2 separate regions of the Homo sapiens genome follow, and region 1 is linked to region 2. A link means that fine-mapping ties the variant in region 2 to the expression of a gene that starts in the linked region. Tissue or cell type: whole blood. Region 2 holds a variant in brackets; the other region holds the start of a gene. All regions are shown on one strand. Distances are from middle to middle.

Region 1 (5,383 bases), 31 kb before region 2:
TATGCTATCCACCTAATTCATATTGGTAAATGTGACCATAATACTGATGAATTTTAATGTCTTTTAAAAAGTTATGATTGCATACTGCTAAGCTGTTATATTAAAAGAATAAATAGTCTCTCCAAAAAAAACCCCAATACGATTCCCACTCACAAGCAAGAACAAGAAGGGAAAATATTGGTGGGAAGGAAGCTAGATTGTAGGCTGAAGGTAATGGTGGGTACAGTAAAGGAATGCTCTAGTTAGGACTCCTGCAGGTCACTGAGTACCACCAATGGAAGTGACATTGAGTCTTGCTAAAAGATCCACCTGAAATATCATGCTTTGGTGAGCAGTGGTGGCATTATGAATCTTTGAAGGTCAAATGACATATAATCATTTTTCACATCTAACATTAACTTTTATAGTTTTGCTAACAGGCATACTTTCTAGCATAATAAATCACTGACTAAAGAACATTTGAAAGGGAGGAAAAAAGAGAAAACTCTAACAATAGTAAGAAAAAAAGCCCAGTGATAGTACCAAAAAATAAAGAAGGCAAAGGAAACAATGGATAAGCCATACCAAGAATTGATAGGGCCGGGTGTGGTGGCTCACACCTGTAACCCCAGCACTTTGGGAGGCCAAGGCAGGAGGATCACTTGAGCCCAGGAGTTCAAGACCAGCCTGGGCAACATAGTAAGATCTCATCTTTATTATAAAATAAATAAATAAGTAAATAAAAGAATTGATAGGTGTTGGAGTACAATATGAACTAGGTACCGAAACAGATGCTGCAAGGGAAATACCCAGGGCAGCAGTGATACCATCATAAAGAGCATAGAAAATAAAATATTTTAAAATGTATAATAGGTTGCCATAAACTTATATGAAAATGAAGACCATTGTCTATAAAGTGTTCACAGTTATAGGTAAAATTAGAAGAGGTGTCCAGTCATTATGCAACCCTTAATGGCAAACACTCCTTCTGTTTCTCCCGTCCTGGAGCCTCCTCTCCCTTCCTATTCTTCAGGGACTAGACCTGAAAGAAGAAATCCTGAAAGAGAACTGCAGACTTCATTGTGGGGTTTGTGCCAGGCACCTTTTGGTCTGTGGGGTCCTAAAATTCAGCTCCACCTCACATCTAGAGTCTCAAAATGATCCAGTCCCAGAGTTTGAAATTTTTCAGCCCAGAGTGGGATGTATTTTTCCAATTCATCAGCCAAAAGGAACTGACCTATTAATAATTCTCGCAAAGGCAAAAAGTGGCCCTGGGTACCACAGATCAATGACTGAGACATCTATTGTTGTCACTATAATTGCCATTATATATGTCATCTGTTTTCAGTTCCCTTTTCGTTTCCCATCCTTTGCTGTTTCCCTCTACCTATGTTCTAGGCTTGCACAAGTTCTGTTTGGCTCTGGCTGGCAGCACACACAGAGAGCTAGTTTGCTGACCCTTATTAATGACATCAGGATATATGTGGCTATATATAGCTTACCACTAACTACGTGTCAAGCACTTTGCTAAATGTTTTACAAGTAGGATCTAATTTAATTCTCATAGCAACCTTGTGACATTTTATCTCTATTTCACAAATGCAGAAACAGGCCCTAAAAGGTGAAGTATCCTGCCCAAGGTCATACAGCTAACAGCCCTCATAGCATAGATTTGAAACCTAGGTATCTGGCTTATCCCAAAGAATAATGTTCTTTTACATTAAGCAATAAAGCCTGTGCCCTAAAACCATACGGACTTGAATTCCAAACCCTAATGCCACCACTTACCAGTTGTGTAATTTGATGAATTATTCAACCTGAGTTTCCTGGAGAATGAAACAGAGTAACATCACTTTAATAAGTGCTTGGGAGCGTTAAATAACCTAACATATAAAAACTGTCTAGCACAGTTGTTGTGGGACATTGAAATCAAGTCACAATATTCAATCCCGCCCTTCCCTCTATTTGATTATCCATTATAGAGGTGGCCTCACAAAGACAACACTAAGGATATGCAAAAAGTGCAGATGATCATTAAGTGCAACATAAATGGTTGATCTGCTCGGTCCCAACGGGTTCTGGCCGTGCGCTTCCTCCACAATCCTGGTGTAGGGAACCCAAAACACTAGACAGAAGAATCTTGAAGCTGGAGGAGAAACGGGAGCTGCTAGACTACTTCTCACAATCTCCTTGTTTACCCTGAAATCAAGAGTCACCTCTTCCCACTCCATCTGCCAGCTTCTCGGGTGCTCTGAAGCGCGCGCCCCCCGCTCAACTGGGCATTGGCTTCACCACGGACGTGGTGTGGGTACCCTATCCCTCTCCCCGCGTGGTGCTGCAGCGATTTCGGGACCTGTCACCCTTCTCTGGGCCACAAGCCCGACCCTCTCCGCCCAGGGAAGGAGGGCGGATCCCAGCCTATCCCCAGCCCCAGGTGCGCGAGCGCCAGGCCCAGGCGGGGCCTTGCGGCCCGGAGCTGAGCCCCGAGCCCGGGCTCCTCCAGGAGGCGTCGGCGGTGCCTGGGTCCAGCCAGGCCGCGACCTAGCTCGGGAGCCTCCCCGCGACCTGCCGATCCCCAGCTGCGCGAAGCCCACGGAGCACTTCCAGCAGCAGGGCCCGGCGGGACCTGCCGCACGGAGCCTGCGGGCTCGGATCCTCCAGGCCAGGACTTTCCTTTTCCCCCGGGCGGTACGGTTGCTGGGCTGCTGCCTCACCGGCCCAGGAACTGGGAGACGCCCGCACTCACGTGGGAGTCTTAGAGGTGGAAGTCGAGCGACGGTGGAGAACAGGTTGGCAGCGTCCGGAGCGACGCTGGGACCGCAGGGATTCAGGAGAACCTAGGGCTGGACTGGCAGAGCAAGGGGGCGGGGAGGGGGCGGGGATGGGGCGGGTCCAGTGCGCGCCCGCCCCGCACAGCCTGCGCGAGGATCAGCCCATCCGCAGGGAGCTGACTCCGGGCTGCATGTCAGCTCCTTGCCAGTAGGCTGGCGCTTCGAGGCCATTCTGGAGGCCAGTCGCTTACTGAAAAGGCAAAACTGACTTTAAGGTAAGTGGTTTGGTGCACCAAAATAAATTCCTTAAGGATTAAATAATTTAAATATTTGAGAAAATTTATGCCATATCTGAACTGAGAAGACTGGGCGCAGTGGCTCACACCTGTAATCCAAACATTTTGGGAGGCAGAGGTGGGAGGATGGCTTGTGCCCAGGAGTTGGAGACCAGCCCCAGCCTGGGGCAAAAAAATGAGACCCCCTCCACCGCTACAAAAAGTAAAAAAAAAAATAGCTGGGCGTGGTGGCACGCGACTGTGGTCCTAGCTACACAGGAGGCTGAGGCAGAAGGATCACGGGCTCAGGCTGCAGTGCGCCATGTTCGTGCCTCTGCACTCCAGCCTGGGTGACAAACAGACCCTGTCTTAAAAAAAAAAAAAAAAGTTACCAAGACAAATTATCAACATGAAAATAGCGAAATACATCTTAGCTGTTAACCATGCTTATATGCTTATTTAGGGCATTCTTAATGTGCACACTACCAAGGACATTTTATATCCTTCATTACCTTTAATCCTCATGATTCTGTGATGTATTTGGTGCCAGTATACCCATTTTACAAATGAAAACTGCAATTGAGTAACATGAGATTTGGAAGCTAAATAATTGGCCTACTTTTCTGAAGTCACACAAATTGTAAGTAAACTAACCTCAAAGTGCAGGCTGGACTGCTTGCTACTCCATGCTGCCTGCAGCTAAACAAAACACTATGGAAAATATTGATACATGACTGCTCGATAATTTAGAACTTCTTCCCAAGGAAACAGGGACAAAATCAATAAAACACATTGGGAAAAATATTGGTCCCAAACCTGACAGAGTTAGTATCTTAAGTTCATTTATTTTTTATTTTTATTTTTTTGAGACGCAGTTTCGCTCTTGTTGCCCAAGCTGGAGTGCAATGGCGCGATCTCAGCTCACCACAACCTCCGCCTCCCGGGTTCAAGCGATTCTCCTGCCTCAGCCTCCTGAGTAGCTTGGGATTACAGGCATGTGCCACCATGCCCAGCTAATTTTGTATTTTTAGTAGAGCCAGGGCTTCTCCATGTTGGTCAGGCTAGTCTTGAACTCCCGACCTCAGATGATCCACCCACCTTGGCTTCCCAAAGTGCTGAGATTACAGGTGTGAGCCACCGTGCCTGGCCTCTTAAGTTCATTTAAATTGATAAGAAAAAAAAAAACACCCAATAGAAAAATGGGTGAAGGTTTTTTTTAATTACAGAAGAAATGGAAAGGGTATCAAATGAAGAAACACAGACATTCTTAAGTAAAAACTTTACTCTTAATCCAAGAAATGCAAACTAAACATTTTTATTTTATTTATTTTTAAGAAATGGGGTCTCACTATGTTGCTCAGGCTGGTGTTGAACTCCTGGGTTCAAGTGATCTGCCAGCCTTGGCCTCCCAGAGTGCTGGGATTACAGGTGTGAGCCACCGTGCCTGGCCTGCAAATTAAACATTTTTAAAATCGTATCAGTGCCAGTGAGGATTCATTCATTTATTCAACAAACACTATGTGCATTGCTCTAGACTTGTGAGCAAGACAGACAGGAACTTCTATCCTAGAGGACGGTTGAATCTTAAGTTAGTTGTTAAAGACAAATGAGATTTCAGCCAGCCAGAAGTGCCATGAGAAAAGTTAAGGCAGGGTGATGTGATAGAGGGACTTGAGGATAGTGTGAGCTTATTTAGACTGGGGATCTGAAAAGAGCTCTCTAAGATGGTATTTGATCTGAGATTTGAAAAATAAGCAGCAGCCAGTTATGCAAATATCTGGGGCACAGGAATGGTAGCAGGGGCAAAGATAAGAACAAACTGCCAGTGCAGAAACAAGGCCTTTGTTGCTGAAGTGTACTGGGGAGGTACTACAAGTGTTTTAGTTTTTACTAAAGGTTTCTGGCTCTATTTTTGATTCTACTTTCACATGTAAATGAAGGTTCTTAGGCACCACTAATTGGATTGCAAGTTTCAAATTTTCCAGAATATATAGTATCCATACCTAACCTTCAAAACTTTTCTTTACACTAAAATAGGGAAAGAGTAGAGGCAAGGGGATGGTTTTGTACTTTTAGTATCCAAACAGCAATCTATCATCTAAATACATAGTGCCATAGCTATTCAATGTATTTATTCATTTTCCTTAACTACAGTCTAAATCCCATTCTACTTTTGTTCTCATTCATTCACCCATTAATTTAACATGTGTTGAATTCATGTTAGATACCAAGCCTAACAAGGTTCTAGAAATAAAACACCACCTGGTGGAGAGTTAAATGCATGTTAAAATGAAAGATATTCACAAAATATTCTTTCTCCTATGTATTTTGATCCTCATATTTCTACCTTCACTCTTT
Region 2 (5,383 bases):
AATGCTTATTTTTAAACAGGAGTTTAGTAATTTCATGAATTACCTATATCTATATTCTTAGTAGTATAAGCACTTCACAGATGTTTTCTCATTTTCCTTACGTTATATTTCTGTTTTATTTAGAGGTAGGAATATAACAGCTAGACAACTGAGACCTAGAATGACTTTTCACATGTAACTTAGCTGCTTTCAGGATTTCTTGTTGGTTCACAACAACGTTTTTCAGTAAATCGTACGGGGAGACGAGGTGGTCATTAGCCTTCTGGATTGTTGGACTTCATAGAACCCAAAGGCAGGGTGAAGTTGGACCTTGGGAAACAATTGGCTTGATTGCTCCGAGGCTTCATTAATTGTTTCTCTACTCTGCTGTTACCTGAAAATCTTTTTCATTGCAGACATTTTTTTTCTCCTTATCCTAAGTCTTGTGACTTTCCACAGCACCTGGGTTTTTGAAGTGTGGCTATTTTAGATTCATTTCTTGGGAAAGAAACTCAGGTCATCTCAGTTTGGGTCTGCCGTCCAACTGTGGCTGTGGAGACAAGGTCACAGTTGACATTGTGGCTGTTCTTACTATAACAATGCAATGTGAGAGTAGATGGAACTCCAAGAAAAGAGAATGAGAAAATAAAACATTCAATTACATATTCTTCTAAATTGATACTCAGACCATAAACATGAACCATTATCTCATTGTGTTGGTAACTTTCTTGGAAAATTCACCACTTTCTACCTTGTATTATAGTTCTCTATAAACATGTCCTATCCCTGAGGTTTTTTTGTTTTGTTTTGTTTTGTTTTAGACATAGTCTCATTCTGTTGTCCAGGCTGGAGTACAGTGGTGTGATCTTGGCTCACTGCAACCTCCATCTCCCGGGTTCAAGTGATTCTTCTGCCTCAGCCTCCCAAGTAGCTGGGATTACAGGCACATGCTACCATGCCCAGCTAATTTTTGTATTTTTAGTAGAGATAAGGTTTCACCATGTTGGCCAGGGCCTCAAACTCCTGACCTCAGGTGATCCATCCACCTCGGCCTCCCAAAGTACTGTTACAGGCGTGAGCCACTGCGCCCAACCCTATTCCTGAGTTTCTAGAGGGCCATGTCCACTTCTCTTTATATATTCCATTACATTTAATACAGTTTTTATGCTCAGTAACTTTTTGTTGGATGAGAATGACTATTGAAGAATATTATACAGTTTTACCTTGTATTGAATGGAATATTAAGAATATTATTGTTCTTACACTTTTTTAAATTTTCAGTGGTATGCAATCTGCCTTAGTGATGTTGGAGATTATGAAGGCATCAAGGCTAAAATTGCAAATGCATATATCATCAAGGAGCATTTTGAGGTACTGATGAATTATTCAAATTCATGAATTTTAAAAGTCATATTTTTCTGAATAGATTTTTGTTTTCATTATCTATTGCTGTATATCAAACCACCTATGATAACAGTGGAGTAGAGCCATGACAGTTTGTTATTTCTTTTTTTTTTTTTTTTTGAGACGGAGTTTCGCTCTTGTCATCCGGGCTAGAGTGCAATGGTGCTATCTCAGCTCACTACAACCTCCGCCTCCCGGGTTCAAGCAATTTTCCTGCCTCAGCCTCCCGAGTAGCTGGGATTACAGGGGCACACCACCACATCTGGCTAATTTTTGTGTTTTTAGTAGAGGTGTGGTTTCACCATTTTGGCCAGGCTGGTCTCAAACTCCTGACATCAGGTGATCCACCTGCCTCGGCCTTTCAAAGTGCTGGGATTATAGGTGTGAGCCACTGTGCCCAGCCGACAGTTTGTTATTTCTTGCAATTCTTTGGGTTAACTGAGCGCAGTGGCACTTCTACATTGCTTGGTATAGCTGGGGTCATTTAGACAGCTGCATTCACCTGGGCCCTCAGCTGAGACTACAGTGTCCAAGATGGCCTCTTACCTATGAGAGTTTCTCCTCACTTGTTTTTTTATCACTTAGTTGTCTAGCTCAACCTTCATTATAGCATGGTAGTCGGCTTCCAAGAATGAGTGTTCCATGGGAAAAGATCCAATGTACAAAGTTCTAGCAAGCCTCTGCTTGCATCACACTTGGTAATATCCTGTTAATCTAAACAAGTCACAAGGGCAAGCCCAGTTTCTGTGGGAGGGGAGCATTGACACAAGTTCCTGAATATGGAAAGCGTGGTCCAGTGTAACAGTCTTTAACACAATTGACACACCACTCCTTGTAGTAATAATTCTATTTAAGATTGATATCTGTGTGTATATTGTATGTGTGTTTTATTAAAAATATTTTCCCCTAAAGTTAATTATTTATAGTAAGCTGTTAGGTGCAAAGAATTGCATAGGAGTCTGTATATTTCTTAACATGGATGAACTTCATTGTCTCAAAAAAAAAAAAAAAAACTACCACAAAAATACCAGCATATTTATTTCTCTTTTGAGATTATAGGAAGGAAAAATGATGGAAACATACATAGGGATAGTGCTGAATTTGCTATTTAAATAGTTTTTCATAATTTTATGGTTTAGTGTCAATTCCTAGTTTATATAACAACTAGTGAAAAAGAATGACTGGGAGTCCAGAGACCTAGCTTTTCTTGTTCAGGTATGGATAGTAATATATACATAATAACTGACATTTTATAATGTAACAATTTACCTGTTTCACAGTTTAAAATCCTTGAAATGAGATTACATGATGTAATTGCTGGAACCTTACATTGTAGTTGGCAGTGATACTTTCTTTCTTAGTGGCACATAAACTAATGGTGTGTCATTTTTGATATTTTAGATTCAGGGAAATACAGTAATTTTCTCAGTGGCATTAGATAAATTGCTTAATTTCTCTGTGCCTCAGGATGTAGAAATACATGACATAACTTCCAAAGGGAATAATGAAGAACTGTAGAAAATACACAAATGTATACTTTCCATTTTTTTAAAAAACAGTGAAGGTTATAGATTATAAAAAAC[A/T]ATGTTTTATATAAGCTTTCAAATGTACATGTTTATATTTTAAATGGCAATATTTAGTATTTACATATAAAAAAGATCATTTATACTGCTTACATTTCAAATTCCATTATATATCTAAAGTGGTAACATCTTTGGATTATTTTTGAAAGACCAGTGGCAGGAAGGATTGATTATAAAAGAGTTTGCTTGAAAGTACCCCTCTCAACCCTTCTCATAAGAAAATTAAACCCTGGCCTGGGCGGCTGCCTCCACGATGCCACTGCTCATCGAGGGGCAGCGAGTGCGGCTGCCACAGTCCGCCGGGGACCTCGTCCGAGCCCACCTGCCTCTGGAGGAAACAGCCAGATGTATCAGAGGTCAGTCTGTTCAACAACTGGGACCCCAGGGCCTTCTGTATGTTCAGCAAAGAGAGCTCGCAGTGACCTCCCCAAAGGATGGCTCCGTCTCCATTTTGGGTTCTGATAATGCCACTACTTGTCACATTGGGGTCCTGTTGCACACAGGTTATGGCGCCACCTGCTTGACACATTGTGATGGAACCGACACCAAAGCTGGGGTCCCCTTGATCATGAACTCCATAAAGTCTTTTTCCGACTGCGCTCAATGTGGAAGCCTGGAAGTATACCTCGTGGGAGGCTTCAGTGATGTGGGAGGCAGTTGTCACAAAAACTCACTCATTAACTTCTTAGTGAATTTGACAGGCAAGAAGATGACATTCACTTAGTGATACTATGATTATGTGTGACAGAATTAAATGACCAGGAAGAAAACGAATAACACTTTCTAATAATATATGGCATTGCTGTCAACTTAAGACTGCAAAGATTTACAGAGCCTCCTTTCTTTTTTTTGTTTGAGACAGAGTCTCCTCTGTTGCCCAGGCTGGGGTGCAGTGGTGTGATCTCGGCTTACTGCAGCCTCTGCTTCCAGGGTTCAAGTGATTCTCCTGCCTCAGCCTCCCAAGTAGCTGGGATTACAGGCGCCCACTGCCACACCTGGCTAATTTTTATATTTTTAGTAGAGACAGCGTTTCACCATGTTGGCCAGGCTGGTCTCAAACTCCTGACCTCAAGTGATCTGCCCACCTCAGCCTCCCAAAATGCTGAGATTACAGGCATAAGCCACCGTGCCTGGCCTACAGAGCCTCCTTTCAAGATCGAGGTCCAGAGGAGCAGCTGCGTGCCGCGTGAGCTTTAGCAGGAGGACCAGTGATTAGCATTTACGATGCAAAGACAGAACAACTTCGTATAGGACTGTACTCCTGGACACCATTTCCACATGTGGATTTCTGCTTGCAGCAAGATGACAAGCAAATACTAGAGAATCTTTCCACTTCGTGTCTGGCCGAGCCACCCCACTTTGTTGAACATATTAGATCTACCTTGATGTTTTTAAAAAAAAATACTGCTCCAACTAACACACTGTTTCCTGGAAATAAAGCCCTACTCTACAAAAAAAATGAAGATGGCTTGTGGGAAAAGATCTCTTCTCCAGGAAGCTAAAAAAATAGGAATTACCAAAGAAAGCAGAACCTTCTTGGCCTGACAGAGACCATTGGTGGGGCCAGCAAGAATCCAAATTTGGAACCTACATCCATTGGGTCTTAGGTCTTCTCCTTCCTTCCTCAGTGTTTTTCAAATGACTTTCAAAATAAAACCTTATTTTGGCAAAGGCAAAAAAAAAAAAAAAAAAAAAGGAAAATTAATTAAACCCTGATCCCCCCAGGCATCCATTGTGATGAATTAACTTCCTTCCTATGCATCTAGAATGGGACTACAGTATTTCTGTATCATTCTTAGGAAATAGAAAAAAATAGTTACTTACACAATTTTTTTGTAGGGCTTAATTTTTAGTGGAACTCCCAATTGAGAAAGGTTGCTTAGAGCATAAGTTGCATATAAACATGTTAAGATACTTATTTATTTTTTACCACAACCTTATGAGTTAAGTACATGACTTTTCCATAAAAGAGAAAAAACTCAGTTGTGGTAAGAATATAGATCTTGCAACCAGTTCAAGGTCATTAAGCTGTGACTTGAATCCTGGCAGTCTGGTTTCAGAGACCATGCTCTTAACCATTACAAATATTTGAAAATGTGTACCTCACACATTACTAAACTGAAAGCAAAAGTGTGGGTTTATAGAAAAGCATAAACTAGGAAATCTTAATTTTTTCAAAAAGAGTCCTTTTAATATGAACATTAATCTGTAAGATTTCTTTAGTTGTTTTCAACAAAATAATGGATAAAAGGAGGAACAGTTTCTTTATTCTGTAGTTTATATTCACATAGTAAATATAAATTAGGGAGATTCAACATATTTTACATTGCACATAATTATTCTATTAATATTCTATAAACTGTTTATTTTTCCTTTGGTAAGTACAGATGGGGAAGTTGAACAAAATCTGCATACAA

Evidence for each region.
Region 1: CPNE3 starts here. The variant in region 2 is fine-mapped to the expression of CPNE3 in whole blood (INTERVAL, PIP 0.97).

What each region holds. Positions count from the first base shown.
Region 1 is chr8:86,511,884-86,517,266 of GRCh38, reverse strand. CPNE3 (copine 3) reads right to left here and starts at 2,832. Exons shown (of 17, transcript NM_003909.5): 1 at 2,726-2,832; 2 at 1,768-1,805. It also overlaps a transcript of RMDN1 not described here. RefSeq lists silencers at 2,324-2,663, 2,784-2,863.
Region 2 is chr8:86,480,839-86,486,221 of GRCh38, reverse strand. It overlaps RMDN1 (regulator of microtubule dynamics 1), which reads left to right. Exons shown (of 10, transcript NM_016033.3): 5 at 1,261-1,350. It also overlaps the pseudogene NTAN1P2. Among named protein-coding and RNA genes, the nearest start is that of RMDN1, 25 kb to the left of the region's middle. The variant A/T (reference allele first, on the strand shown) is at 2,967.